6 separate regions of the Homo sapiens genome follow, and all the other regions are linked to region 2. Evidence: fine-mapped expression QTL. A gene starts in region 2. Each other region holds a variant in brackets. All regions are shown on one strand. Distances are from middle to middle.

Evidence for each region.
Region 1: its variant is fine-mapped to the expression of ANXA4 in whole blood (TOPMed, PIP above 0.99). The same link has a PIP of 0.9 or more in monocytes after LPS.
Region 3: its variant is fine-mapped to the expression of ANXA4 in whole blood (INTERVAL, PIP 0.91).
Region 4: its variant is fine-mapped to the expression of ANXA4 in whole blood (INTERVAL, PIP 0.99).
Region 5: its variant is fine-mapped to the expression of ANXA4 in coronary artery (GTEx, PIP 0.92).
Region 6: its variant is fine-mapped to the expression of ANXA4 in whole blood (TOPMed, PIP above 0.99).

The regions. Positions count from the first base shown.
Region 1 is chr2:69,760,901-69,765,976 of GRCh38, forward strand. All of the region lies in intron 1 of ANXA4 (annexin A4), which reads left to right. Among named protein-coding and RNA genes, the nearest start is that of ANXA4, 21 kb to the left of the region's middle. RefSeq lists an enhancer at 1,733-1,792. The variant T/G (reference allele first, on the strand shown) is at 2,258.
Region 2 is chr2:69,739,680-69,744,755 of GRCh38, forward strand. ANXA4 (annexin A4) reads left to right here and starts at 2,455. Exons shown (of 13, transcript NM_001153.5): 1 at 2,455-2,496. RefSeq lists silencers at 2,094-2,273, 2,484-2,723.
Region 3 is chr2:69,850,432-69,855,507 of GRCh38, forward strand. It overlaps GMCL1 (germ cell-less 1, spermatogenesis associated), which reads left to right. Exons shown (of 14, transcript NM_178439.5): 9 at 4,392-4,529. Among named protein-coding and RNA genes, the nearest start is that of GMCL1, 23 kb to the left of the region's middle. The variant C/A (reference allele first, on the strand shown) is at 2,834.
Region 4 is chr2:69,713,351-69,718,426 of GRCh38, forward strand. It overlaps a transcript of ANXA4 not described here. Among named protein-coding and RNA genes, the nearest start is that of ANXA4, 26 kb to the right of the region's middle. The variant G/C (reference allele first, on the strand shown) is at 3,128.
Region 5 is chr2:69,084,488-69,089,563 of GRCh38, forward strand. All of the region lies in intron 8 of ANTXR1 (ANTXR cell adhesion molecule 1), which reads left to right. Among named protein-coding and RNA genes, the nearest start is that of MIR3126, 17 kb to the right of the region's middle. The variant T/C (reference allele first, on the strand shown) is at 1,895.
Region 6 is chr2:69,779,280-69,784,355 of GRCh38, forward strand. It overlaps ANXA4 (annexin A4), which reads left to right. Exons shown (of 13, transcript NM_001153.5): 2 at 2,241-2,295. The coding sequence starts at 2,287. Among named protein-coding and RNA genes, the nearest start is that of SMANTIS, 17 kb to the right of the region's middle. The variant C/G (reference allele first, on the strand shown) is at 2,081.

The DNA.
Region 1 (5,076 bases), 21 kb after region 2:
CACACTGGTGAACCACTTTGGGAGGCCAAGGTGGGAGGATAGCTTGAGCTCAGGAGTTCAAGGTCAGCCTGGGCAACATAGTGACACCTCGTCTCTATTAAATTAATTAATTAATTAATTAATTAAAAAATAAATAAATATAAAGTAAGCCACAAATGCAAGTTTGAATTGTCTAGTAATTACATTCAAAAAAGTAAAGAAACAGGCAAAATTAACTTAATAATATAGATATATTTTACCCAATATACCCAAAGTAATATCATTTCAACATGTAATCAATATAAACATTATTAATGAGATATTTTATAGGCTTCTTTTCGTGCTGTGTTGTAGCAGTCTGATGTGTATTTTAAACTGATAGCACATCCAAATCTGAATGCAAATTTTTCATCAAATGTCTGTATTTAGATTTCATGAAATGTTCAGTTTTCACATCAATTTACATGCTCAAATTATTTCAAACATACTTCAAAAATTTTTCCAATAACTAAATCAAGTACCTAAAATAATTTTCCTTTAATATTTGCATCCACATGGAAAAAACTGATTCATGTTTTTTAAAAGAATTTCACTTCGAAGTGAAAAGGCTCTCGCTTTTAAAACTGCATCTTTCCAAGTTAATTCACGAACTCTCTTGTCAATTCCATCTCTTGTTCTTTACTGTGCCAGCCGTGATGCTTCTGCTACTCCACTCAATTGTACATCAGTAACGTGCCTTTGTTTTAAATCTTAAAACGTAGCTGGGTGCAGTGGCTCACGCCTGTAATCCCAGCACTTTGGGAGTCTGAGGTGGTAGGATCGCTTGAGCCCAGGAGTTCAAGACCAGCCTGGACAACATGGTGAGACCCCGTCTGTGACAGAGCAAGATGCTGTCTTAAAAAAAAAAAAAAAAAAACTTAAAATGTGTCCATAGCTACTTTTTAACTAGAAAATAATTTAATTATGTTAAAATAACTCAAACTTGTGCTGTCTGTAAAACTTCTTCAAATAAATACATTAAAATATTGCATCAGTGCCTAGAAAAATATCAAAGTGAATAAATCTGTTGGCACCAACTAGATTAGTGATTACGTGTAATACTAGAAAAGATGCCACATGCTTGACATGTGCCCTACACATACAATGGTTGAACAATGTAGCCCTACCAGAGCAATAAAGCTGTGTGTAATGGGGAAATATTTCATACTGCATCAATTTCAAAATTTAAATATAATTAAAATGAAACAAAATTTAAAATTTAGTTTCTCAGTCTCTCTAGCCACTTTCAGTTGCTCAGAAACATGCAGCTGGTGGCACCATATTGGGGTATAGAGACAGTCTGTCAAAAGACAGGGTGAGGAGCCAGGCGAGGTGGCTCATGCCTGTAGCAACAGCTACTTGGGAGGCTGAGGTGGAGAATCACTGGACCCTAAAAGCTGGAGGCTGCACTGAGCTATGATAGTGCCACTGCACTCTAGCCTGGGTGACAGAGTGAGACCCCGTCTAGGGGAAAAAAAAAAAAAAAGACATAGTGAACAGAACACTTTAGTGCCACCACGTGCACCTTTCTGTGTTAGCATCAGCTTTACAGCAGAGGAGGGATTGTAATGGGCCTGGTCTAATTCCCAGTTGCTAGCTGGTTTTCCCTTTGTTCTTCTCTGCTTCTTTTTCTGTCACAAATGCCTGGTTCTCTGGGCAAAAATAAATAAATAAGTATGTATTTATGTATATTAAAAATATAACTCCTAGCATGGATTTCTGCTAGGGTGCTTCTCACTGATCATGCCTCCTTGAATCTACTCTGCCACCATGATTCGCGCCCCAACACCTCTCGGCCTGCTTTGGATGAGGAGGGCCAGCTATGGGCCTACCTCACAGCTCCTCACCTCAGGGTAGGGTGTTCTGAATAGATCCCCACATCAGACAGAGCTGCTAGAGAGGCAGACCCCATCTCCCTATTGTCTCATAAACACACACACTCACTCACACACTCACACACACTCATACTCACTCACACTCACATACTCTTCATCCAGCTCCATCTGCCGTAAGTCCGTTTCACTTCCTCTCAGCTTCTAACATTATCTCATGACCATCCTAGTCTTTTCCATTGTGTCATGAGTTTCTCCCTTTTCTTCCCTGTGCCTTCACGAGAATCTTGAATGAGAAACTGGGAGCGGCTGCTGCATCAGAAATAGTAAGTTCCTCACGTGAATCAGAAATCCACTGTGGAAGAATTTTACAGTTCTGTTTTTGTGCTCTTCTGCCGGAATCAGCT[T/G]GAATTTTGGAAAGATGTGGGGACAGAACCCTGCCCTGGCCCAGAGAGGGAATGGCTGATCCAAGGGGAGGAGGAGTTGCCCACAGAGCTGGAACTTGATGACTTCGGGGCGCGGGAGGCCCCAGAACAAAGTGAGACTTTGAAGAGAGCAGTGCTTACTCTCTGCTCAGTTCCAGATCTCCGAGGTGGAGCCAGTTGAAATCTGTGTAGGAAACAAAGCTGCTTTTCTGGTTCATCTGGAAAGAGAGGGCTTTTTGTTTTTTCCCCACGTGGGCAAATAGAGGTGGTGATGTTGTGTTTTTAGAGCCAGAAGGAAAGTTCTGGGCTGCATAATGCCTATATTCCAGGCAAATAGAACCCAACAAGGAAAATGGTCTAGCTTTATCACTGACTCACTGCAAATCCCTTCCCTCCTGTACTTTAATTTATTCATTTTCTTTTTTTAAATGACAAACTGATATTATTTTTAATTTTTAAATACTTCAGTGACCACAGGACATAATACTTTTTTTTTTTTTTTTTTGAGATAGAGTCTCGCTCTGTTGCCCAGGCTGGAGTGCAGTGGCGTGATCTCGTCTCACTGCAACCTCCGCCTCCTGGGTTCAAGCAATTCTCCTGTCTCAGCCTCCTGAGTAGCTGGGATTACAGGCGTGCGCCACCACGCCTGGCTAATTTTTATATTTTTAGTGGAGATGGGGTTTCGCCATGTTGGTCAGGCTGGTCTCAAACTCCTGACCTTGTGATCTGCCCTCCTCGGCCTCCCAAAGTGCTGGGATTACAGACGTGAGCCACCGCACCTGACCTTAGTTTTTTTCTGACGTGGTCCTCTTCTTTTATCTCTAAGACTTATGATTGCTAAGACAACAAAAGATACCATCGTTACTGGCCAACCTTGGAATTTGGTCTTGGGAAATGGAGGCCTGTAGTTTGTAACCCATAAGAAGAGACTGAAGGGGCCTAAGTGCAGATGAGAATCCCTGGTGATAGAACAGACAAGAACTGGAGATCAATGCCAATAGTTTGTGATGAACGTCTTGGGGTTCCTGTGTGATCAACCTGTTGGGATTTCTGTATTAGTTTCACACTCACCTGTAATAGTTTACCAATGGTGTTTCTGAAAGATGAACATGAAATTAAGCGATCTTTCATGTTTCCTCGAGGGACTTTGATTCTAAAATAACTCTGAGAACAGATCAGGAAACATGATATAACCCTAACCATGCTTGACACATTTTCTCTTTAAATAACAGTTATACTTGAGGAGAGGATTTTACTCATGATGCTGTGCAAAAGCCACATGGATTCCACTGGTTTGGACTTTGCCTTAGAGTGGGCGTTGCTAAGTGATGGATAACAGCAGCGTGCTTCCCTGAGAGGCCACTGTGAGCCTCTTACTTAGGTTGAGAACTTGACCTCTTACTTAGGTTTTATACCACCATAAAATGCACCCATCTTAAGTGGTTAGTTTGATGAGCCATCGTTTCTTTTAAGGAGTTAACATTTAAAATCAACTTTTAAAAATTGTGGTGAAATAAATACACATGAAATTTTACCATCTTAAACATTCTTAAATGTAACAGTTCAGTGACATTAAGTATATTCACATTGTTTTGCAACCATCACCACCATCCATTCACAGAACTCTTTTCATCTTGTAAAACTGAAACTCTGTACTATTTAGCTGTAACTCCCTCTTCCCTTTCCTCCAGCATTATCATTCTGCTTTCTGTCTCTATGAATTTGACTACTTTGAGTACATATAAGTGGATTCATGTAGTATTCATCCTTTTGTGACTGGCTTATTTCACTTAGCTTAGTGTCCTTAGGTTCATCAGTGTTATAGCATGTGGCAGAATTTCCTTCCTCTGTAAGGTTGAATAATATTCCACTGTATATATTCCACTGTATATATGTGTATACACACACACACACACACACACACCACATTGTGTTTATCCATTTATCTGTTGAGGGACACTTGTTTTGCTTCCACTTTTGGCTATTGTGAGTAATGCTGCTGTGAACATGGATGTGCAAACATTTCTTCGAGTTCCTGCTTCCTGTTCTTTTGGGTATATGTATACCTAGAAGTGGAATTGTTGGACCATATGGTAATTCTATTTTTAATTTGTTGAGGAACCACCATACTGTTTTTACGGTGGCTGTACCATTTTACTTTCTTACCAGCAGTGTAGAAGGGTTCAAGTTTCTCCATATCTTCACCAACATTTGTTGTTTTCTGTTGTTCTGTTTTGAATAGTAGCCATTCTAATGGGTATGAGTGGAGTTCAGTGAGTGTTGGCAGATGTATATATCCGGGTACACTACCCCAATCAAGGTAAAGAACATTTTCATCACCCCTTGATGTTGCCTCATGCTCCTCTACAGTTAGTATCCCTTCTGCCTCACCAGTGCCCCCAATCACTGGCCCCAGACAACCACTTTTGCACTTTCTAGCACTATATATTAGCTTTGTTCGTTCTAGCGTTTCATGTAAATACTTTGTTTGGCTTCATTTAGCCAGAATAATGCTTTTGAGGCTTATCTAAAACCCTAGTCTAAAATCAATTGTGGATGGAAAATAAACCGCAGTGTGACTGGAGTTCGATACTATGCTAATGGTTGGTTAGAGAATACCATGGGTCTCAGAAAGAAAGTGAGAGGAGGAGAGGGGGGCTGAGGAAGCAGGAGAGGGCCCTTCCTAGCAATGAGGCCTTCAGGAAGCCCAAAGAGCCATAGCAATTAATGCCAGTCCTATGGCTTCGGGGGCAGCCAGTTCAATTAATCAGCAGGCATTTCTTGCAGGCCCGCTATGTGCA
Region 2 (5,076 bases):
TTCCAACGTGCTGGTGTTACAGGCGTGAGCCACAGCACCCAGCCCTATCTTTAATTTAAAGGCTCCTTGGAGTGGAATTTCAACAATTATATTAATTTTTTAAATACTCTTAGATCAGGTTTCCTGGAAACAGAGCCTGACCCTAGGATTCTTGTGCAAGTGCTGTAGTGAGGGTATTCTCGAGGGAAGCCTCCGAGTAAGTGAGGGAAATAGGATAGGCCAGAGGGAGAAACTGAGCAAAGATATGGTTTCTGATGAAGTTTATCCTCAGTCTGATCCCATGGGAACTCTGGCATATGAAGGGTACCACAGATTTATTCCTGGCCTTTTATAAGCTAAAAAAGTTAGCCTCTGGCCATGGCTTCCTCAGTCTGGTCTGAGCGCAGATGTCAGCAGATGGGGGCAATGAAGGGGCAGTGACCTGGGGCTGGATGCACCCACCTAGTAAAGGTTATTTACGCGGGGTGCCAACGCATCTACTTCATTCCTAAACTTTATTTTTTTCATGTAGCTTAATTTTTTCTTTCTTTTTCTTTTTCTTTTTTAGGGACAGGTTTTCGCCATGTAGCCCAGGATAATCTCCCAAACTCCTAGCCTCAAGCAACCACCTGGGCCTCCCAAAGTGTTGGGATTACAGTCTGAGCCACCTCACCTGGCCTAATTGTTGCTTGTAAGGGATGCAGTGTCTCTCTAATCTTGCTTAAGAAATGAATTATCTGTATTTCATTTTTTTTCCTACTGTTTGACCTTTAATTTTTTGTTTTGTTTTGTTTTTGTTTTTGTTTTTGTTTTGAGACAAGGTCTCACCCTGTCGCCCAGGCTGGAGTGCAGTGGTGCAGTCATAGCTCACAGCAACATTGAACTCCTGGGTTTAGAGTGATCCTCCTGCTTCAGCCTGGCTAGTAGCTGGGACTACAGGCGTGGCTATGCACCCGGCTAATTATTTATTTATTTTTTGTTTTCTTTTCTTTTTTTCTTTCTTTTTCTTTTCTTTCTTCCTCTTTTTTTTTTTTTTTTTTTTTAGACAATGTCTCACTCTGTCGCCCAGGCTGGCGTGCAGTGGCGCAATCTCAGCTTACTGAGCCTCTGCCTCCCGGGCTTGGGTGTTTATCCCACCTCATCCGACTGAATAGCTGGGACTACAGGCGCATGCCACCACACCCGGCTATATATATGTTTTTTTTTTTTTTTTTTTTGAGATGGGATTTCACCACATTGGCCAGGCTTATCTCGAACTCCTGGGCTAAAGTGATCCACTTGCCCTGGCCTCCCAAAGTGCTGGGATTACAGGCATGAGCCACTGTGCCCAGCCTTAATTTTTTAAGTTATCATATGCAGATAAAAGAGGCAGAACCAGTTTTAGTATCCAAATCAGTCTGATCCTAAAACCCGTGCTCTAAACCATATTAAACCACCTTTTAAAATTACATCTTAATGAAATAATTTAATGTTACCTCTCCAGCTTTAAGGGTGCCATTAACCACTTAGATTTTGATGTGTCGGATGGAAAACACTCCCCAAACGGGCTATTCTCTGTTTTTTAAAAAAACTGAATTTGCCTATAGACTCAACGGATTCATTCTGCAAGCATTCACTACGTGGCGAAATCGGTGCTGGGCATGGGTGCAAAGACGACCTAGCCCTAGTTGGTGTCTTCAAGAGGCTGCGTCCAGCAGGGGAAGCAGATATGAAAACACAGAACTATTACAAGGGATGAGCGCCGCGCCAAGCCGAACCTGGGAGCTACGGACAGTGTCTAAACTTTAGTCACTCACAGGAGTACAAAGATCCGGGGCTGCTCCTAACTCCTACTCCAAAGCTTTCCTGGCCTGCTGGGCGCACAGGGAAGAGGGAAGTGCTGGAAACTTTTGGGAATGTGTGTTTTCATGTGAAAGAGGGGAATGAAATGTATCCTTCAGATTTCACTTTCTACTTTTCCGGCCACGGGCTCGGCACGACCTGCCGTTGGGAGACGAACGGTTTCCCGAGGTGGGGGGAAGCGCGGATTTGCCGCGGGACTCCGGCTTGGCGCGGAGCTGGGCGCGGCAGGCGCAGGGAGGAACTGGCGAGGTGGCCCGGGCTCGGCCCTCCGAGGGTGTGGAGCGCCCGGGAAACGGGACCCCAAGAATCCAACTGCTCCCACCCTGCGCGGCCAGGAGCGGGGCTGGCGATACTGGGGACACTGTCCAATCCGGGCAGGGGGCGAGGCCGGGGGACCGGGCGGGCCTGGGGAGCAGGCACGTGTGGAGGGCGGACCCGCCGGGGGTCGAGGCCTGCCTCTCCGAGAGCTCCTGGCGCGGCCGTCCCGGCCCGGGGCCCCAGGTGCGCTTCCCCTAGAGAGGGATTTTCCGGTCTCGTGGGCAGAGGAACAACCAGGAACTTGGGCTCAGTCTCCACCCCACAGTGGGGCGGATCCGTCCCGGATAAGACCCGCTGTCTGGCCCTGAGTAGGGTGTGACCTCCGCAGCCGCAGAGGAGGAGCGCAGCCCGGCCTCGGTACGAGGGGTAAAGGGGCTCCGGGCCGGGGGTCCTGGGCTCAGGGAACGGGGAGCGTGGCCCGGGAGCGTCTCGCGGGGATGCCCGGCTCCGCGCTGCACCCCAGAGTGGGTGCTCGCCGCCGGCTTGCGGGCAAGCCCGGGCGGCCACAGGGTGGAGGGGGCCAGCGGGCCCTGGACTCGCTCCGGGTGGGCGAGAGGGAGGCGAGCGCGGTGCTTAACCGCTGGCACCATCCAGGACATCCAGGGCCGCTTACACGGCTCAGGACGCGGGTCAGAGACCACGGCAGTTATTTATTCAGTCCATGTGCTAGGCTTTGCATCAAAAAGAAAGGACCGAGATAATCTTGCCTGTAGCTAACTCCTCCTAACACCTCTTACAGTTTACTTTTTAATTCTTTACTCCATTTAAGAAACTTACTCCTTTCTCCTAGATCCTTACCACTTTCTTACCTTCTCGTGTGTCTAATGCCCTCGGCACAGTGCCCGGCACATCGGAGTCTGATTATTATAGGGTCCATGACTTGAGTTGGCTGGTGGCGCAGTCTCAGCATTTTGTCATGACTTTGACCAGCTGGAGACTTTGGTGCCAAGGAGGAAGGCTTCTCAACCATTTACCGGCAGAAGTGACCCCCGGGGCAATGCAAGTCTTCTGAGCTGACAGAGCAGAGTGGGTCCTGCATAACTCGTGCTTTACATGGAACTGGGCATCTGCTCTCTCCTGCTGACAGTGGGAAGGATAGATAAGGTGTCCCTCTCCAAGTTATCCATTCTCCTGCCCACCAGTCCATGACACCCCACCACCCCCTTCCACTCCCTACTGTTTGCCCTTTAATTTTTTGTTTTGTTTTGTTTTGAGACGAGGTCTCACTCCTGTAGCCCAGGCTGGAGTGCAGTGGCTGGATACAGTTCACTCTGCCTCCCAGGCTCAGGTGTTTCACCCACCTCAACCTCCTGAGTAGCTGAGACTACAGGTGCATGCCACCACGTGCCTATAGTCTCAGCTATTCAGGAGGTAACTGGTAACTCTATTGATAACCAAACCCTAGATTTTTTTTTTTGAGATGGAGTCTTGCTCTGTTGCCCAGGCTGGAGCGCAGTGATATGATCTCTGCTCACTGCAACCTCCGCCTTCTGGGTTCAAGAGATTCTCCTGCCTCAGCCTCCCGAGTAGCTGGGACTACAGGCGTGTGCCAACACGCCTGGCTAATTTTTGTATTTTTAGTAGAGATGGGGTTTTAACATGTTGGTCAGGCTGGTCTTGAACTCCTGACCTCAGGTGATCCACCTGCCTTAGCCTCCCAAAGTGCTGGGATTACAGGCATGAGCCACCGTGCCCAGCGGCCAAACCCTAGGTTTTTAGTTGCCAGGGAATTCTCAGACACAGGTGGAAGAGCAAGTAGGAGAGGAAGTGGACAGGGATAAGAAAACGGATAACCCCATGACCCAAGAGCTGCTGACTCTCCAGAGCCCTATCAGGCCAAGGCCATCCTCATTCAGCTCATGTCAGATTTCTGTTGATTGAAGATAGAGACACAAGTACACCCCTGCCCCCACCCACACATAGACAGGCACAGACACACAACTACTGGATCAAGGGCTTCTGTGAATTTCCCTCCTAGATGTTCTTGCATTTGGTTAGGGATAATGTTTCTCTGCAAGCAATTTAGAGAGTAACCCGCACAGTCAAGCCATGTACCACTCCAGGCCTTGGTGTTTAAAGGGTGAGCCTCCTGGTCATCCCCAGGCTCATGTCCAGTGGCATGTTTCTTTGTTTATGTCCAGCCACTCATTTGTTTTCCTGAGCTCATTTATTATCTGCTTTTAGACTAAGCCTGCTTTTCTCCAAGGGAGATAAAGATGAGTGGCAGGCACTGGGGATTGTGGGCAGTGTGCCAGGGAGTACCTGAAGTTCCAGAATAAACAAGGGGTGGGGAAGCCTGGGCAACATAGCAAGACCCCGTCTCTACAAAAATTTTAAAAATTACTTGGGCATGGTGACACCCACCTGTAGTCCCAGCTACTTGGGAGGCTGGGAGGGAGTTTCACTTAAGCCCAGGAGTTCAAGGCTGCAGTGAGTTATGATCACACCATTGCACTGCAGCCTGGGTAATAGAGTGAGGCCCTGTCTGAAAAACAAACAAACAAACAAACAAAAACAAGAGGAGGAGATTTTCTTTGAGTGTCATTTTTACACAAATATTTGAAATTAAAAAACACTTTTTATACTAAAACAATCACAGATATATTTTGAAGTAGAATCCAAAAATTGTATACCTTTTAAATCTAAAACAAGAAACCTCAAAAACATTTTGCTTGGGATTTGAGCTGCAATTTGGTCCAAACCTAGCCCTTGAGGGTTTGTTTTCACTGCAATTAGGGCTACTTATGGAGGCAGTTTGATAGACACTGCAGTGTCCTCCCTGGAGCAACTTTGAGTAACACTCATCCTAGGCTGTCTTATCTAATCTTCACTTCAACCTGCAATGGGGTTATTAACGTTGGTTTACAGCTGAGGATCCCAAGGTTCCATATCATAATCCTTGGTCAAGTTCAGACCATTTGTGAACGAAAGCTTAAA
Region 3 (5,076 bases), 110 kb after region 2:
ACTGGATAAATCCTTAGTTCGTGATTTTCTTAGTTTATGGCCACCTTTTTGGTTTATTTTTAATACGTTGAGCCTTTGTGACCTAATCTTTGAGTACTAGAACATCAGTAACTTCAGTCTTAACTCATGTGCTTCTTTTCTATTGTGTCCCTCTGACTTTTCCTAACCACTATCTTGAACTTCATGTTTATTCTTTTGCTTTATAAATATATATTATTGCACCATGTATATACGTCTTAACATATATTACATAGTGGTGTGCTAATAAGCTGACTCTGAAAAAATAATCCTTGATTAGTACCATTTCTTAATTCCCATGGTACAAATTTTCCCATCATGGCTGATTGATTGCAAGCTACCAACATGACATCACTGAATGAGAAAGGAGATGCACACAGCTCCTATGAGCTAGCAGCAACACGCCACTGTATAATATATCATTTTGTTTTAGTTGTTATGGAACTATGTCACATTGTGGCCTTAATTTTAATGTCCTTTATAACTAAAGAGATTGAATGACTCTTAATATGGTTATTAGCCATATGTTTCCTCTTCTGTGAGATATCTGTTCAGGTATGTTTCCTATTTTAATGTCAGATTTGTCTTTTCTTATTGATTTGTAGGCATTCTTTATGTATTCCTGATAACTAATCCTTTGTCATACATATGTTCTGCACTTCCAGTTTGTAGGTTATCTTTTTAATTTATTAAAGATGTCTTTTTGGTTGGGTGCCGTGGCTCATGCCTGTAATCCCAGCACTTTGGGAGGTCAAGGCAGGAGGCTCACTTGAGACCAGGAGTTCAAGGACAGCCTGGGCAACATATCAAGACCCTGTCCCTACAAAAAGTTTAAAGAATTAGCAGGGCAGCCTGGCACGGAGGCTGATGCCTGTACTCCCAGCACTTTGGGAGGCTGACGCCTGTACTCCCAGCGCTTTGGGAGGCTGAGGTGGGCAGATCACAAGGTCAGGAGTTGGAGACCAGCGTGGCCAACATGGTGAAACCCTGTCTCTACTAAAAATACAAAAATTAGCCGGGTATGGTGGTGGTCGCCTATAATCCCAGCTGCTAGGGAGGCTGAAGGAGGAGAATCGCTGGAAACCAGAAGGCGGAAGTTGCAGGGGGCCGAGATTGCGCCATTGCACTCCAGCCTGGGCAACGAGCAAAACTCTGTCTCAAAAAAAAAGAATTAGCAGGGCGTGGTGGCATGTACTTGTCTGTATTCCCAGCTACTGGGGGGAGGATCACCTGACCCTGGGGGTGTCAGGGCTGCAGTGAGCCATGGCCACACACCACTGCACTCCAGCCTGGACAGCAGAGTGAGACCCTGTCTCAAAAGGAAAAAAAATGTCTTTTGATGAATAGATATTCTTAGTTTTAAAATTTCATGCTCTTTATATCTTAGTTAAATACATTTTATAGAATTATTTTATGTAGTCAAATTACCTACCTCAGAGCCAGATAAATTAATTTTCTATAAAGTTCCTGAAGTAAAAATGTGTAAAGAACCATATCAGTGAAATATAACTTGATTTCCTTGAAGAACAAAAATACTAAACTTGTATCTTAAATTATACTTTTGTGTTACGTTATGGCAATTAAAGAAGGACTAGGGAAATTATAGAGGAGAAAAGTAGGGGAAAGCATTTAAATAGAAGAGAGAGAAAAGCTGAAAGAGACAAGGATGGTGAAGAAGTTAAAAAGACAAAGAGACTCAGTAGAAACAGTAGATATTAGGCAAATGTTGATAGAACCTTATGATCATTTGTGCTCCAGATAGATCCACCACAGCAATCAATCAAAAGAGAAATTGCCCTGTAGCCTAAGTGGCAGAAACTAGAGAAGCAAGCTGTGGTCCACTTCTGGATTCCCACTTGAGGCTCTCCCTCCCAGCCCCTGAGGTGTGAAAGTATACAGTTCAAGATAACTTTTCAAGGAGACATTGATTGCACAAACCAAAATGTATGTCTGATGCTCTTGTTTTTCTATGAAGATTTTACAGAGTCATTTTCAATAGTTTTAAAATTATAAATAAGATGCATACTTAGGAAATAGGATAGAAAAATCACCTGTGATCCCTCACTCGTTATATTTTGGCATATGTCTGTCTGTCTTTTTTTTTTTGAGACAGAGTCTTGCTCTGTCACCCAGGCTGGAAGTGCAGTGGTGCGATCTTGGCTCAGTGCAACCTCCACCTCCCAGATTCAAGCAATTCTCCTGCCTCAGCCTCCCGAGTAGCTGGGACTACAGGTGCATGCCACCACACCCAGCTAATATTTTGTATTTTTAGTACAGATGGAGTTTGCCATGTTGGCCAGGCTGGTCTTGAACTTCTGTCCTCGAGTGATCTGCCTGCCTCGGCCTCCCAATGTGCTAGGATTACAGGCATGAGCCACCACACCTGCCATATATTTTTGTATATTTCTTTTAAGTTTTCTTAATTATTTGACTTTTCAGATCTATATGGATCAGGACTACAAGAAACAACAGAAATTTAGAAAGTTTTCTACACAATTATACTTAAGGATTGCTATTGAATTTGGCTGATGGAATAAGTATGGCCACATGTTGTCCAGCAAGAAACTTTAAAACATTTTTTTTGGTTCTATAAATTCTTACAGAAGTAAATGAGCCAGTCTCTTCTACAGCCGTGACGAAAAGGCTTCATGAGTTAGAATCACCAGATTTCTATGAGACAATCCAGAATTAGATTTTTATATCTTGTTCATGTGACAGAACACTTGTAAAAACAAAATGGTATTCTCAGCACACCCCCTGAAATTGGCACATTTAATTCAACATATGAACTGGAACCAATGTTGTTATTTTTAAA[C/A]TCAAGAGATATAAATCCACTGTCACACACCTGTTGTATAAATAAGTGAAGTTAACTATTAATTTTTTAATGAATTTACTGCTTTCTTGTTTGCTTTGCTGACTCTAGGCAGGTGCCAAGGGAATACAAAAAATATATGAGATAATGTGGAAATTCTTTTCATTAACTTGGCTGTCTTTTTACAATTTTCAGGAAAAAAATATTTTAGTGGGGAACACCTTCTGGTCTACAGAAAACCTGTGTTCCATGTGAAGCATGGTTTGAGACATAATAGTCTATAATGGCAACTGTCATGTTTTTCTCCTTATCCTTAATAGCAACAGGACTGGGTATACATACTCTCCTGGGTATATGTCGTTTAACAGAAAACATAGACTAGGGCTCATGCACAAATACCTGTTTGATAGCAGTAACTCTAAACCTTTCCTTCTGACTCATGAAAGCACACTGGAATGTAACTGAGGGTAATTTTTAGGAATAACCTTAAATTCTCCCTAAAAGAAAAAAAATTATATACTTCATAAACTTGAATTATTCTATTTTCTTTTCTTTTTTTGAGACAGAGTTTCACTCTGTCACCCAGGCTAGAGTGCAGTGGCGCAATCTCAGCTCACTGCATCCTCTGCCTCCCGGGTTTAAGCAATTCTCTGCCTCAGCCTCCCAGTTAGCTGGGTTTACAGATGCCCACTACCACACCCAGCTAATTTTTTTTGTATTTTTAGTAGAGACAGGGTTTCATCATCTTGGCCAGGCTGATCTTGAACTCCTGACCTCGTGATCCACCCTCCTCGGCCTCCCAAAGTGTTGGGATTACAGGCGTGAGCCACCACGCCCAGCCAAATTATTCTATTTTCAGTATTATTATTATTATTATTATTATTATTATCATTATTACTTATTTTAGAGACAAGTTCTTGCTCTGTCACACAGGCTGGAGTGCAGTGGTGCAATCATAGCTCACTGCAAGCTGAAACTCCTGGGCTCAAGCAATCTTTCCACCTCAGCCTCCTGAGTAGCTGGGATCACAGGCGTGAGCCACCACGCCTAGCCATACAGTGTCTTTCTTATTTTGTATTTCAATAGAGAATTAATATATTAACTAGTGTTCATTACATGTAGCTGAAATGTAAGTTAAAAGAAATTAAGAGATATTCTTTGTCCTGTGTACCTTATCCTTGAGTGAGGCTTTTGGGCTCCAGAGTTTCACTGGCCTGTTCAGGTCTTGGGAGGGGGATTCTGGCGAGAATGTGTAATCCTAAGTACCTTTCTCAAGCCTTCCTTTCCCAACTTGCTGCACTATACATGCCAAATGCCCAGAAACAGCTGAATTCCCAGCCTGGGGGTTTCATTAAGACCAAAGTTAATTTCCTGGGATTTTAAAATAAATCTCCTTATGTTCTTATCTGTAAACCTAAGGTTTATAAAATTCTTGAGAACTTTAAAACTAGCTTATTTTGTATTCTAATAGACATGAATGTACGTATCCCCCGTCCACAAAAACATTTAAGAATAATAGGTTTGAAAAGAATGGCTGTTTAACTTACATGGTTTTTTATAGATTTTGAAGGTATGGCCTTTCTTGAAACTGAACAAGGAAAACCATTTGTGTCAGTATTCAGACATTTAAGGTTACAATATATTATCAGTGATCTGGCTTCTGCAAGAATTATTGAACAAGATGCTGTAGTACCTTCAGGTAAGAGAACATAATTTGTAATTTTAAGTAATATATTTCTGATTATAAAGTAATATAGATCATAGAAAAGAACAAGGAAAGAAGTAGAAATTATTATTAATCCCAAAAAGGTATACATCTTTATGCCAAAGTGGAATCATCCTATAGAAGTAATTTTCTGTGCTTACATATCATGAGTATTTTCCCATATCATATTTCATGAAATACTCTCTAGAATATTTAAATGATTATCTAGTATTCTGTAATATGGATGTTCTTTAATTTAATAAACCAGTACATGATTTTGGATGAGACTTTTTAAAATGACTTTTGAAGTATTTAAAGATCATAAGTGATTTTTCTATTAGTGCTCCTTAAATTTGTTTATTTTGATTTTTTCTTATTCTAAAGTCTTAAACTTCATGTTGAAGCAAATGTGTCTTTGCTAATTATAATTTAAATTTTTTGAAATAACTACTGATTTACCTTTCTGAGTTAAATCTCTAGTGCTTGTGAATAATTCTATTTAGTACTATATATACATATACAAAATTGAAAATAGAATTTC
Region 4 (5,076 bases), 26 kb before region 2:
GAAGCGATATGTGGATGATAAGATTGGAAGAAGCCACTCTTATGTTCGGTGGTGTGCTGGTAAATGTTTAGCAGCTGGCTCTGGGGCAGAGAGAAAGCCCTGAATTGTAGTATGTGCCAATCTCCATGGTGTAAAAACACTTCTACCATAGCTGCTTCCAAGTATGTAAATTGTACACCTCAATAAAGCCAATTTAAAAAGTAAAGTCAATCAGTTTGTAAAACTCTTGAGACTTTAACATTCAGTCCAGCAAGCTGTTACCTGCCGGATCCAGCAACACACAACCCGTAACATAACGAGTTGGGTCTCAGCTCCCCGCTCTTCACAGACTCCAGAGTTCTCTCCCCTTTGTGGGGTTCCTCATCCATCCTTCCATTGCTTCTGCTGCTGCCCTGAAGGCATCACCGCTCTCCCGTCTCCTCTTGGGGCACCTAACTCTCTTAACAGTTTAGGACTTTGAGGAGTTTTGCCTTTCACAAAAAGAAAGAATGGGGGAAAAACGGTTATGCCTCAGCAGCTTTCGCTGTCTACCCTGCAGCACAAATTCCACTTGATGGAGGAACACAAAGGTCGGACTCCCTGCCGTGAAGAGGAGAAAGGGAAATTCGAATATGGAAGGAGCTCTACTCTCCCTTGCTCTGTCCTCCGCAAGAGAATGGGGCAGAACATTCTTTAGTCTACACCTCTGTCCCACATGAGTTGCCAAAGACCACAGTGCCTGGTGGGTGACATCTCTCCAGGCTTTTGAAGACATCTGAGCCTGGATTTTGAGCACATTCCTGACCTCCCTACTGGGAGGCTCTTCTCCTTCAAGGTCTGCCTTCTGACAAGCCCTAGCTCTTTCCCACCTCCAGTGGCTGGGTGGGCCGGGGGGTGGGGTAAGGGTGGAGATGTGGGCACATTCTGGGAGCCCCACCAGAACCCCATGGAGTGGAGAAGTGACCTTCTAAGGAGGGGAGCGTACAGTTTCCGGAAGGGAGGAAGGATGCGGTGAGGACCAAATGCATCCATGCAGGATTTCAAATATAAACGACTCTATAGAATACAAGCACCTACTCCTGGCAACCGAAGCCGAAGGAAGCCTAAGAATATAAGAGACGGGGCTTCGGCGAGGGCACGTGACCGAAAACTCACATAACACTCCACCTGCCCCAGTCCAGCCAGCCTGCTGTCCACAGTGTGCCCATCAGTGTATCAAACCTCAGTGCTTTATTTCCTGGGATCCTGGCCGAGCTCCCATTAACCTCCTGTGTTGTCCCCACAGCTCCTATACATGGGAGAGGGCCTGCGTTGGGCCAGATCCCAGAGCTGGGGCCTAATTTGTGATGGGATGCCCTGGGAGGCAAGCGTGCTTCAGCATGTACCCAATCAATAGCCAGACACCCAGGTCCGGAGGTGCCTGAGTCGGTCAGCAGGACGTTGGGCAGGTCTAGGTTCAGAACCTCTGCAGTTTTTCCCTTGGCTTCCCCGGGGCTTGTCCACAACGCCCCCTGCTGCCCATTCTTGGTTAACCTTGTGTCTTGTGGATACCTCATCAGATCTGTTCATGAAGCCTAACGCAAGGTCCTCCCTCCAGGGTGACACAGTGAAGTCAAGTAACAGATGTGGAGATGCTTTGGAGAGCTTGAAACAGAAGACTACATAATAACAATGGGCCAGTATCATAAAGCCAAGATTGAAGAAGACAGAACTGAATATCTCCCTCATCTGCAAAACTTGCCTTATCTTTCAGTATCATCCTGTTTCAGTGGACAGAAATCAATCCATCATATATTTGAGCCCTGCTCTTATAACCAAGTTAAATTTTGCCTAAAATAAGGCCCTGCCTCAAGCAAATCATGGTTTGTTTTTTATTTTATTTTATTTATTTATTTTTTGAAATGGAGTCTCGCTCTGTCACCCAGGCTGGAGTGCAGTGGTGCAATCTCCTCTCACCACAACCTCCCCCTCCTGGGTTCAAGCGATTCTCACCTCAGCCTCCCAAGTAGCTGGGATTACAGGTACGCACCACCATGCCTGGCTACTTTTTGTATTTTTAGTAGAGACGGGGTTTCACCATATTGGCCAGGCTGGTCTTGAACTCCTGGTCTCAAGTGATCCTCCCACCTCGGCCTCCCAAAGTGCTGGGATTACAGGCATAAGCCATCACGCCTGGCCAAATCATGGTTTAGAAAAGGGAGATGGTCAAATATAATTGTTATGACTGCCATAGTACCTACTATGTCCCAGATAATTTGCCTAGGTTTTTAACCCTCACAACACATCCCTAAAACATTGTACAGATGCAAATGCAGAGGCACGAAGAGGCTTAAAACATTCCCAAAGTCACATAGTTACTATAAAGCCAGTAACTGGCTCTATGTCTATCTGAGTCCAAAATGTGTTTTGTCCCCTTCTGTGCCTATGCACAGAGGGCAGTGGGAACATAAATGGAGGTGGAGGGAGGGGTAAGAAGGAGACATCAGTGGTCTACCCTCTTTATGTGATAACAGACTCCCTCTTTTATCTGGCAGCTGCTCCCTCAAGAGGAATACCCATTCTTTCTTCCTAGGTCAAGAAAGAGAGTCCAAGGCATGGTCAATCACAACACTGTCCCTCTAGTCATGGGCCAAGTGCTGGGCACACGTCACCAGCCAGGCTACTCTTAGCCTTTCCCATAATTTTAATAACCTGAGACTGGGAGAAAGAAGCCTCACTCTCTCCTGGAGTGATCAAACTGTATGTAAGTCTAGAGTTCTCTGTGAGTACAGTCTCCTCTAGCAAGAAAGGATGAGACCAACTCATAATAAGAAGCCAAAATACATGTACATATGAGTAAGAGAGAGAGAGAGAGCTGACAGCATTGTTTGGGTGTCTGGATCTAGCCATTCCTGTGGTGGCTCTGTCTAGTCCTTACTTAAATGAGTTAATACATCCCCTTTTAACTGAAGCTAGTTTGTGTTGGGTTTCTGTCCCTTAAAGTCAAGAGTCCTGAGAAATACAATACTGGTCAAAAAAAGTCTTCATAGAACAGGTGAACCAGGAAAAAAGGGATTCACCAGAAAGATAAGAGGAGAGGCAGAGGGTGAACGTAACAGCAGCTGCACTCGAGGAACTGCGAGCAGCTCAGGATGACTTGAGCTGAGAT[G/C]TGCAGAGGGGGTTGGAGAGACGGGCGAGAGCCACATCAGGGAAGGCCTTGTTTGTCAGGTTAAAATGTTTGGTCTTTATGTGAGGGCGACAGGGAGCCCCCAAAGGGTTTCAAGCAGTGGTGTGACATGCTCAAGCTCGTTTTGAGAAGATCACTCGGGAGAACGGGTCTGAGAGACAGCACAACAGGAGGGCAGCGGATTAGTTATGAGGCTGCTCCGGGAATCCAGGTGAAGAGCTCAGGATGGAAAATGACTCGACGTTTTTGACTTGGTCATTGGCCAGAGGGGAGGGCAAGAACGAAAAGAGTTGTGTTTTGTTCATGTGCAGTTTGAAGTAAGTATCATACATTTAAATGGAATTGTCCAGTAGGTTTACTAAAAGAGATGACAGAGTTGGCGATGTTTAAGTTTTTCTGAGTCATCAATTCAGCTGTTTGCTGTCTGCCTACTACTGGCCAAGCACTGTGTGGAGGAGAACACCGTCCAGCCTCTGCTCCCTGGCATCACACTGTGGCAAGACAAAACAGATGATAACCAGAGAAACCAATCAAGAAACAAGGGAAGTGCAGGGGAGACCGTAAAGCAGCATCGTGTAGCAGAGGGGCTGGGGTGGGGGCTCCATCTCTTCAGTGGTCCTGGAAGGAGGAGCTGACGCCCTGAGGGTGCAGGAGGTGGCTGAAGATGAATATTCTCCAATTCATGCCCACTGAATAGGAACATGCCCATTTAAAAGCATCCATATGCATTTTGTTTGGCTTGTTGGTTTTCTTTGCCTGCCTATGCCTTCAAAGCTGGCATTGAGGTGGCAGGAGGCTTCTGTGCAGAAAACTGAGGCTGGTGCTGGAAAACTCCCACCATGGCCCCTTTGTTCTCATCCAGTGCCTTTCATCCCACACTCCCAAAGCCCATCCTGGCGCCCACCCTTTAATTGTCAGGCCTGGCTCATCGACACAAGCAGGTGGCATTTGATCATTATTCCTGCATCATAAATGAGGGTAACAAAGGCCTCCCTCTCCAGGGTATCAGCCAATATTATTTTGTGAGTTCAAGGGATCTGACTTTGAGTTGAAGCAGAAAGGCCTGATGTCCCATCCTTTTCATTTCTGGAATTACCCGTCGCTGCATCTTTCTGTTACCGCCATTTCCTCTTTAACTCCACGTATCTAACTGGAAACTTTGCTTTTCTTTGTTTCATCTTCTTTGGAATATGTTGTTCCCTGTGACCCCTCCCCACAAAGCCTTGCCTCTGCAGCAGATGCCCTGAGCCTTCCTGATGCCTGGGACTGGTACCTCATCCAGTTTGCTTGTTTCAGGCACTAACTAAACTAGAATGTGCCTGGATCCCTATGGGCCTTGGCTTTCTACCAGATGACAGGCAAACTAAGAGACGTACACAACCTATGCACTCCCTTCCCTCTAGAATGTTTCAGCAGGGGTCCTCTAAGTAAGAAAGCTGGAATTAAAAGGAATAGTTTTAATGGGGAAACCCTGGCTAGGGAGATGCTTGATACCCTAAGGCTGTATGTCTAGCTAGGTCAGGCATAGCTCAGTGCGGTCTGCATTTCATAGCAGATGTTTAGTTTGGAAAGTCCCCTGGCTACTTGGCTTCTAGAGCCCTCTCTCACCATGGGACTTCTCTGTGGGAGGACAGAACTCATCAATCACATTCTCCAAATGTCAAGTTCCTGCTGTGTAACCCCAGGAGAACCTTGCTTCCCATCTACATAACAGAAGTGAGGACCCCAGATTTGCTAGACAAAAGCTTGAACCTGTGGGGAAAGGTCCCCCCAGCTGGTCAGAATTCCCAAAGAAGGCTACCACTGGGAGATGGATTGCAATATAAATGGCACCCCCACCCTCTGGATGTTTGTCATTTCACCCTTCCTTCTTTACCTGACAATCTCTTAAGAGATTCTTGGGGGGATGTAATACACCAGCCAGGAACTAA
Region 5 (5,076 bases), 660 kb before region 2:
TAAGCGTGGTATAATGTATTTGGTATAGTGTATTAGTGTACATAAAATCATATATGAATCCCAGAAATACGTGTGTATAATATTCCATATTTGTATTTGTAAAGTTTTTTTTTTTTTTTTTTTTTTAGAGATGGGGTCTTGCTATGTTGCCCAGGCTGGTCTCAAACTCCTGGCCCCAAGCAATTCTCTCACCTTCACCTCCCAAAATGCTGGACTTACAGGCATGAGCCACTGCACGTGGCCATATTCCATTTTTATTTAAAGTCAGATTCTATAGAACTGACATGGATCTGGGGTAATGTCCATGGTTAACAATATGTGTGCCTATTAAAGTGTGGAGAATTTAGTTAGAAAAGGCAACTTTTTTTTTTTTTTTTTTTTTTGAGGCAGAGTCTCGCTCTGTTGCCCAGGCTGGAGTGCAGTGGCGCTATCTCGGCTCACTGCAAGCTCTGCCTCCCAGGTTCACACCATTCTCCTGCCCCAGCCTCCCGAGTAGCTGGGACTACAGGCGCCTGCCACCACACCTGGCTAATTTTTTGTATTTTTAGTAGAGACGGGGCAACTTTTTAAACATTTTATTAATTAGAGATTAAATCATTTCAAAATTCATGGGGACAACATTGACAGTCCTGAAGATGTGTTTGAGCCAGTTGTGTGTCCCAAGCTGCCTGGCTATCCCCAGGCTTATCCAATGTGCTTTCTGCCATCAGCTGTAATAATGTTTGTGGCGCTTCTGTGGGAGGCTGGGCCCCACCTGCCAACTACAGTTCTCTATGTTTTTCCCAAGAAAAGGGGTTGAGGCCTTTACAAAGCGGCCGACCTAATACAGGGGATTATGATATGCCTACAACATTTTTTTTTAAGGTAAGCAATTTTTTAAAAATGAGGTGTTGAAATTGGCCTCTTGGGAAGGCAGCAAGTCCCCAAAGATGGTGGTACTTAATCAGACGAGGGGAGTATTACAAGATGCAGCATATGGACTTGTATTCAGAAGACCCTGAGGTTACACTTATAGGGGGAAAGGGAGATTAATACATAATATGCTACAATGCCAGTTTATTAAGACGTGCAGGAAGTGTGTCATTTATTCATTTATTTATCCAATATTTATTTAATGCCTACTATGTGCCAGGCTAGTCATTGTGAATATAATAAGTAAAAACAAACCCAGTCCTTCTCCTTGTAGAGTTTATAATCTAAGAAGACAGTGACCAAACAATAAAAAAAAAACACTGTAAATTATAAACTAGGATAAGTTATCTAAAGGATGGCAGTTTACATTAAAATGTGCATGGATATAGAGATATTTCATTGGTCAAATCACCAGCACTTAGGTGGCAGAACTCATATTGGATTTGGAGAGTGACAGAGAGAGCAAGGCTAACTTAAACGTTCAGGTTTTTGTCTTAGACAACTGAACAGATGTAAATGGTCGGTAGATACTTAACCATCCTTGACACCAGCATACTTCAAACCCCATACATCTTTAAACCAGAATTTGCCCTTTACAACAAATAAGACACCAAGGAACATGCTCTGAAAGACTTTCTGAAATATGTGTGAAAGCAAAAGACACCTATACCATCAAGGGATAAAAGAGATTGGTCCATTATAAACACACAAAAAAGTTCTCCAACAGGAAATGGCCAAGTAAATAAAGATTGGTTGTTTATTAAAGCAAGAAGCAGAGCAAGTAGAAAAAAGAAATGCCGTGCCTATGATAAGGGAGGGATTCCTTATAACTCTGTGCAGATATTCACAGTTCTGTAAAGATTCTTGAGAAATCTCTGCATAAACTGAGAACTTCATGACAAAGGACATTAGATTTTTAGAATTTGAAAAAATAAACTCTTCTATACAACCCGGACTGGTCCACAGTGGATTTCACTTTAAA[T/C]ATATCAAACAGCTCCTGTAACTTGGCAAAGTTCTTGTACATCCGCTGCCTCTCTTACTCGTCCTCCCACCAATAATCCAATGAGATGTACAAAAGTCAACTTACCAGAAACAACACATGACAATTATTTAGCTCTTTATGGATTTCAAACATACTTTTCCATCTATTTTCTCTTTGAAATCTGTCCAAAAGTTGGCAGGAAAATAGCATTAACCTTGGTTCAGCTTTTGTCAGCAAATATGATTAAGCAGAAGGCCAGGGGTGGGCGATGGGGCGTAAGCACATGTGAACCACGGTCCACGCCCAAAAGTAGCAGCAGTAGCAATAGTAATGACAAAGGAAGAGCTAACAGCCACTGTTGTTTGAATACATGCCAGACATTCTCTTAAGTGCTTTACTGCCAAGGTCATTTTGACCACTCTTCTTGGTGCCTTATTTTCATAAGGTGCTCATGCTGGCTGGTGACCCAAGGGTTATTAACTTTCTGTGGATCGATCACATCTGTCTAGTTCTGTCTATAAGACAAAAACCTTGTCAGTTTTCCTTGATCTCATGCTCTCCCTCACCGTCCAATCCAATATGAATTTTATTACCTAAATCTGATTGATTTTCCAAACAAAATATCTCTGCGTTCATGACTGTTATTTTATTTAACCATCATACAGCCCCTTGAAGTTGGTGTTTTTCTTATCCCATTTTACAGCAGAGGAAACTGAGATTTGGAGGTTTAATAACTTGTCCGAGTCCACATGGCCAGTAAGTGATGGGACTTGGATTTGAATATAAACCCATTCAGAGTCCAAGTCTATCTTCTCAGTCTCCAGAGCTTAAGTTCTTGATAGTAATAGCTACCATTAGTTGATTACTTATCAGGTTTTAGGCACTGTGCTATGGGCTCTGCCTGTGTGATCTCATTTAATCTTCCCACACAACAACTTTATGCTCGTACTTCAGGTAGATACTATTGTTATCCCACTTTTATAGAGAGGAAACAGGGACTCAGAGAGGTTATGGAACCTGCCCAAGGTCACACTGCTCATGAGTGAGTTGACCTCAGCTATTTGATTCCAGATTCCAAGCAATTACTCAGGATACTGAACTGCTTTCCAAAATTGGGGTTCAGAAAAGTTAAGGGATTTGTAAAGGAGCATAGGTCAGGTAAATACGGACCAGGGCCAAGACCCAACTCTTCACATGGGATTATACTTGAGGCATGCAGTTATCTTATCCCTCTCTCCTCTGCAGATCAATCATACCCTCACCTTAAAGCCTCTTACCTCTAACATCAGCCTTACCCTGTGTAAGTCTCTTCCACTGCATCTAGTGATTTCCCATCAGCGATTCCCCAGTGCTGTGTCTACACCTCTGCCATGGCTACCACTGCCCGGGCCTCCCTACCCCCACACAGTCTCCAGTCCCTGAGCTGATCTGCTGTCTGCTACAGTTCAGACAGGCTGATTACCATACAGTCTTGGCTGCTAAGAACCACGAGAACCCTTCAAATCCACCAACTGCCATTGTGACTTCCTACCTTTTGAAACCAGACATTTCAAATGAGTAGGAGCCCCAGTCCCAGACAAATCCTGCCCATCCCCCTCACTGATAAATTTTACTCTATTGGCTGTATTGCATCCTTCCAGATGTTTTAAGTTAAGATTGGGAAAGCTGTGTTTTTACTGGATTGAATCACAGTGCTTGGCTGGCATTTTTTGGCCCTCCATACACCCCTTAGATTTATCAGCTAATTGCAGACACTTTGAGAGAATAATACAGCATGTGTTTATTATGACAACCCCTGTTAGTGTGCCTTTGTGGTTAAAGATCCACGGATGGTTCCTTTACCAATCCCTGGTTAAGGATCAGAGTTGGTTCAAAAAGGTTGGTTGAAACTCGGGTTGGGTAAAAATTTCATGTGTGTGTTTGGGGAATGGGAACAGGACTAGTCCAAAAGCTCTTTTTAAATTCTTGGACTGTTTTGAAGTCTTTAGTTTTGGATGATAAAATGATTTATTAGGAGATGTCAAATGCCTGAGGAATTTTATTTAAAACATCAAAAAACAGCTTTGTGTTGTTCTAATATCACTGTTTAATAAGTTTCTCCCTCTGGGCTACCTCTATTTCTCAAATGTGGGCTGTCTGGAGACTTGTGCCTGAGGACAAGTCAAAGGGGGTGGCTTCCTCCCTTGGTCATGGCAACCACTGGCTGAAGTACCCCATCAAACAGGAAGAGCCCAAGAGCAGCAAGTTCAGGGATTGGCAAATGGACAATCTTCACAATTCAGGCAGGGCTGTCTGGGATGAATCACTGTGCACCAGGATGCTAGCAAGTCCCAGTCCTAATACGGTGCTATATGCGCAAGAGACCGAAAAGACTAGATCAACCATAAGGCACTGGGGAAGCCAGCAGGGAAACACAGGTGCCCAGGATATATCCTTGGGGTCCTTGTTCCCAAGTTAGACTGACAATGAGTGGAAAACAGGAGCTCAGTGTTTTCCCCAGGTGCCCAGAGCAGGTGTGTGAGGACCGCTGACTCTAACAGAGATGGGCAAGGGACATGGGAGTCCGGAGCATTCCCTTCATGCTACAGTCAGGATAGACTTAGGGACCAGGGAGGAACTGAGGCTGCACCTGTGTCTGGGGTGGGTGGAGGTGGCTAGGTAAGCCAGAGGCTGAGGAAATGAGGCAGAAGCTGAAGGAACTAATTACTTCCAACTGCGGAGTCAGAAGGATGCTGCAAACAAATAGGGGAATCAAAGTATAAAAATGCCATGAAGTTCTACAGAGTGAAGGAAAAGTAGTCAGAAAATCTGAATTTTAGAATTGTCAAGAAGAAATGTTGCTTTTGGTGACATTCAGGTACATAGAGTTACCTAAAATACATGGTTGGGAGATAACCTATTTCAATGAATGCATCTTAATATTTTCTTAAGCATGTTTGTTCATTTTCTTTCGCAATGCTTCTCTATAAGGATGCCCAGATTTCTCTCTGGAATGGGTAAATATTACCTCTTCTGAGAAACTGATTTGTTTTCATTCCACAGATTGAGAAAGCTCATAAATATTGGCTGTCCTTTTCGTTTGCTACTAGAAAGCTTGGAACTAAGTCCACTCTAGCAAGGAAATAAGCTCCTCAGCATATTTTTTCTATGCTATTCTCACTTCTTGCGTCATCTTCCCTTTA
Region 6 (5,076 bases), 40 kb after region 2:
ATAAAATAAATAAATGTGTCGTCTATCTCTCCTGGTAGACTATAAATGCCTTGACAGCAGGTTCATTGTCTTATCCACTGCATTATCTCTATCAGTGCCTGGAGAGGTGCTGTGAGAGGTCATGTAGGAACATTTGGTGATTGAATGAGTAAATCTACACAGTCCATGAGTCACTACTTCTGATAAAGTCTTCCTTCCAGACATCCCCCATATATCATATTCCAGTGCCACACCCTGCCCAAGCTTTTGCCTCTACCCATCTGTTCCTGTAGCTGTCTCTCAAGCCTTCTTAACTCCTTCTCTCTCACTCCAGTCTCTCTCTTTCCAGTTTACCCTATAGTAAAGTACAGTACCTTGTTAAAGCTTTTCTTTTATTATGGCATTTGTCTGCAAATAACAAAAAACTTTCCACAGTATTCCCATGACCTATGGTATTCTGTAGCCAGACTCCTCAGCCGGCCGTGCAAGGCCCATACCATTCAGTTCACTTTGGCTTTTCCAACCTTGTTTCTGAGCCTTCCCTGGAATGAGCCCTCTGCTGTCACTCCCGCATTTCCTCATTATTCCTGAAACTGCAGCTCATTCCCACCTCTGTACCTTTGCTCAGGGTGTGTCCCAGGACTAGTTGGTTCTCCCCTTAGTTGAACCCCCAGGTAATAGGGGGTAAGTCGGCAATGAATGATGGGAAACAGGAAGAATGAAACTGGAAGGTAAAAAGCAAATGTGATCAAACAAGGCCTAAATGGTAATCAGGTGGGTTAAGAAGGACTTAGTTATCATCAAAAGGCACACTGCTTGGTCAGATTATCTAGACCAGTGCTTTTCAAACTACTGTGCAGGCAAATGTTTGGGGAATCTTGTAAAAATGCAGATTCTGGGAGTAGGTGTGGGGTAGGGACCTGAGATTCTGCTTTTTTTCTATCTCTCTCTTTTGAGACAGTGTCTCACTCTGTCACCCAGACTGGAGTGCAGTGGCATGATCTTGGCTCGCTGCAACCTCCACCTCCCAGGCTCAAGTGATTCTCCTGCCTCAGCCTCCCAAGTATCTGGAATTACAGGCGTGTGCCACTACCCCCCAGCTAATTTTTATATTTTTAGTAGAGATGGGGTTTCACCATGTGGGCCAGGCTGGTCTCAAACTCCTGACCTCAAATGATCCACCTGCCTCAGCCTCCTAAAGTGCTGGGATTACAGGCGTGAGCCACCACGCCCAGCCAGGTTCTGCATTTTTAACAAGTTCCCAGGAATGCATGTACTCCTGGTTCTAGGATGACTCTTTGAGTATCAAGGATCTAACTAAACTCTGAGAAGAGGAGCCTTATCCAGGTGGTTCGCACCTGTAGTCCCAGTGACTCGGGAGGCTGAGGCAGGAGGATCGCTTGAGTCCAGGAGTTCGAGGCTGCAGAGGGCTATGATTGCACCACTGCACTCCAGCCTGGACAATGGAGGGAGACCCTGACTCAAAAAAACAAGAAAAGAGAAGGTGCCTTGTTTATATGACTTAGATATGGGAATAGGAGGTGGTGGGCTGCCATTAGGGGACTGTTTATGTGTCATGAGAACTCCACAAGAGTCCTAGACTACAGTGAAGACATTTCTTGCATTCTGAACAACTGAAAAAAATGTGTGATGATGATGAAAGAGGGGGTGCTGAAAACCGAGGACAAAGTTGAGTGTATAAGCCTGCAGCTTAAAGGGAAGAAAATCTTTAATCCTAGAATGGTGGCGGTGAAAATCGCCACTGGGAAACGAAAAGATTCTAATGTTGGTTGGGCTGCCGGCCTGTCATTACACACACACAAACACACTCACACAGATGCACACACAGAGGGGAGGCTGGTATGCTGTACTTTCCTCTGATGCAGTTGGATTATCTCTTTTCTCAAAGGGGGAACCTCTTCTGATCTGCTGTAACATTCAGTTCAGAATCTGTGTCCAGCTTGAGTACAAGTATTGGTACTTAACCTAACAAAACAATAGGAATCCTTTCTGTAGTGTGTATCTCCAAACAGAAGAACAGGTGGGAAAATATTTTACCAGTGTGATAAAGTTGACTTTTTTTAACAGTTTCTCTAATTAG[C/G]CCATTCCTTGTATCTTTGGCTAATCAGTAACTGGCCTTTTGATTAAGTTGGGTGTCATTTCCTCATGGCTTAGCTTCATGCAAACTGCAAGTTATCCTGATTAATGATTTTAATGCCATTTCCTTCATCACAGTAATTTCCCCTCTGCTTTTATCACAGAAGAACTTCTGCTTGGGTGGCTGAACTCTGATCTTGACCTAGAGTCATGGCCATGGTAAGTTGTGAAATACCTCAACCCTATCTGGTGCCAGCTGCCAACAGGTACAGAATGTGGGCTCAGCAACTGTTAGCTTAAACAAAGCATTGTTTACTCAACAGAGGGGAAGGAGGAGGACATGAAAAGGCAGGTCTATTTCTAAACATCATTTAAATTTCTTTTAGGGGTGGTAAGCAACTTGACCTTGAAAACTGATTCAAAGAGAGAATTCTTTGAATTCTTTTAACATCCTGAGAATATAGAAACAAGTTGTAATTTTCTGTCTGCAGAAGCGCTACATGTTTATTTTAGAACATTTAAAAAGGAAAAACTAAAAATTCTTTAGGTTCTACCACCTGAAGAGGACTGCTATCGATACTCTGAGGTAGCCACATCATTTCAGGCTCATCAAGAGGGGTGTTTCTTAACAATATGGGTGTGTTGGCTGCCTCCTGCTTTAGACAGTAATCAGACACCTTGGACCTTGGTTATTTGCTCTTTGGAACAAGCATCGAATTGAATCCCTTTGAGAGTTCTGTAAAGTTCAGCTCTGAGGTGGAAGCTGAGCCTCTTAGCTGAAAACATGGCTGTACCTAAGGCTGGACATCTGCTCTCCTTCTCTTGCCCAAATACGGTTTCTGAATAGACAAGTAATTCTGATCCGTGGTCTTCTGGAGGAAGCAATAATAGAAGTAGAAATCTTATACCTAGAGAGGAACTGGAGAGCCTGACAGCTTGAGATGCCTTCCTTTAGGAAGATGGGTGTGTAAAGTAAACTATCCTGAACAAAGAGTAATATACTCTTAATTTCTTTTGCATTAGATATTCCAGAATTTTCTTCATGATCTCTGACAGTCAAAGGCTTATTCATGTGTGCCCCAAATCTCTCATGCTTTAGTTTAAAATCATTTTCTTGCTGATTGATTCTCCCTGGCCATGGAGAATTTTTTTAAAAATATTTACGTATTTTTATTTTTTATAGAGATGAGGGGCTCGCTATGTTGCCCAAGCTGGTCTCAAACTCCTGGCCTCAAGCGATCCTCCCACCTTGGCCTCCCAAAGTTCTGGGATTACAGGCATGAGCCACTGTGCCTAGCCAACGTGGAGAATATTTATTCAGAAATGCTTATGGTGCCCCTACTTTGTGGCAGATGTGGGACTAGGACTCAGAATTAATGAGATGCTCTTCCTGTCTTCAGCAGGCTCACAGCTTTCCTACAAATGAAGACTGTAATCAAGTGGCCCTTTGTGTGCTTTCCACTCGGAGAAAATTACCTCAGTTGCTCTCATCTTTCCTCCTAAAACCTGTTTTTCTATCATGACTATTATTTATTGACAGATAAAGGACATTTTAAAAAGAAAATCACACTATACAGTCGCAACATTGGAAACACCAACTATTTGCCATTTTTTAATTTTAGACCTTACTCATATGTATAATGATTTTTAAATAAGAGTAATAAGAGCATAAATAATAGTTTTGTAGCTTTCCTTGTACCCCACTTAGTATAGGAAAATAGGAAACAAGTTATTCACTCTGATCTTATGCTTTATCTCTTCTCTATGCTAATGAGATAATGTAATGTTTATATTACATTTCATATCATTAAAATTATTTACTCTAGTGGTTATGAGTGTTTTAATTTTCTTCTTAATTTATTTTTATTTTTATTTTTTTTGAGACAGAGTCTCAATCTGTTGCCCAGGCTGGAGAGCAGTGGCGCGATCTTGGCTCACTACCACCTCCGTCGTAGGTTTAAGCGGTTCCCCTGCCTCAGCCTCCTGAGTAGCTGGGATTACAGGCGCTCGCCACCACGCCTGACTAATTTTTTGTATTTTTGGTAGAGACAGGGTTTCACTGTGTTGGCCAGGCTGGTCTCGAACTCCTGACCTCATGATCTGCCCGCCTCGGCCTCCCAAAGTGCTGGGATTACGGGCGTGAGCCACCGCGCCCAGCTTTCTTCTTAATTTTTAAAAAATTTTCCAAATTCTCTATAATATTTTTTAAATCATTGTATTCAAGATTTTAAAACATGTTTTATGGAGGTATAATTGGCATATAGTGAAATGCACATCCTTTAAGGTTACTGGTCGTTAAGTTTTGACAAATACATATATATACCCACATAACCTACTCTCATATCAAGGTAGGACATTTTATCATTCCTAGAAGCTCCTCCATGCCCGTTTCATATTAACTCCCCTTCCCACCCTCCACTCCACACAAGAAATGCAACTGCTGTTCTGAGTGTTATCATAAGTTAGTTTTGCCTGTTCTAGAACATCCTATATATTGAATCATAGAGTAGGTACTCTTTTGTGTCTGACTTCTTTTTCTGGGCATTATATTCTTTTGCAATTCATCCGTATTGTTGCATCAGTAGTTTTGTTCCTCCATTCCTTTTTATTGTTCATTAGTATTCCATTGTATTGTACTCTGATCTTTTTGGCATGTATCTTCTTCATTATTAATGTAATAACAATATTTCATCAATTGTGATATGGCACCTATTTCTATCTATTCATTTTTGTCATTCCTTCCTATATCCTCTCTGTTTCCTTTGCCTGCTATCACAATGGGCCCTCTTGGGACAGAATTCCCTGTCTTCCCAGAATGGATAATGGCCTATTATACTCTGAAATTCAATCAATATGGATATTTATCATGCTAACAGGGAACACATTTCTTGATCTCTTTCTTGGAGAAAAAGAGTCATTAAGAATGCTAACTGATAAACGGAACCACCCTTGCCAATTCCTCTATCGATTCACCTTGTTATATATTAATCCTAATCCATA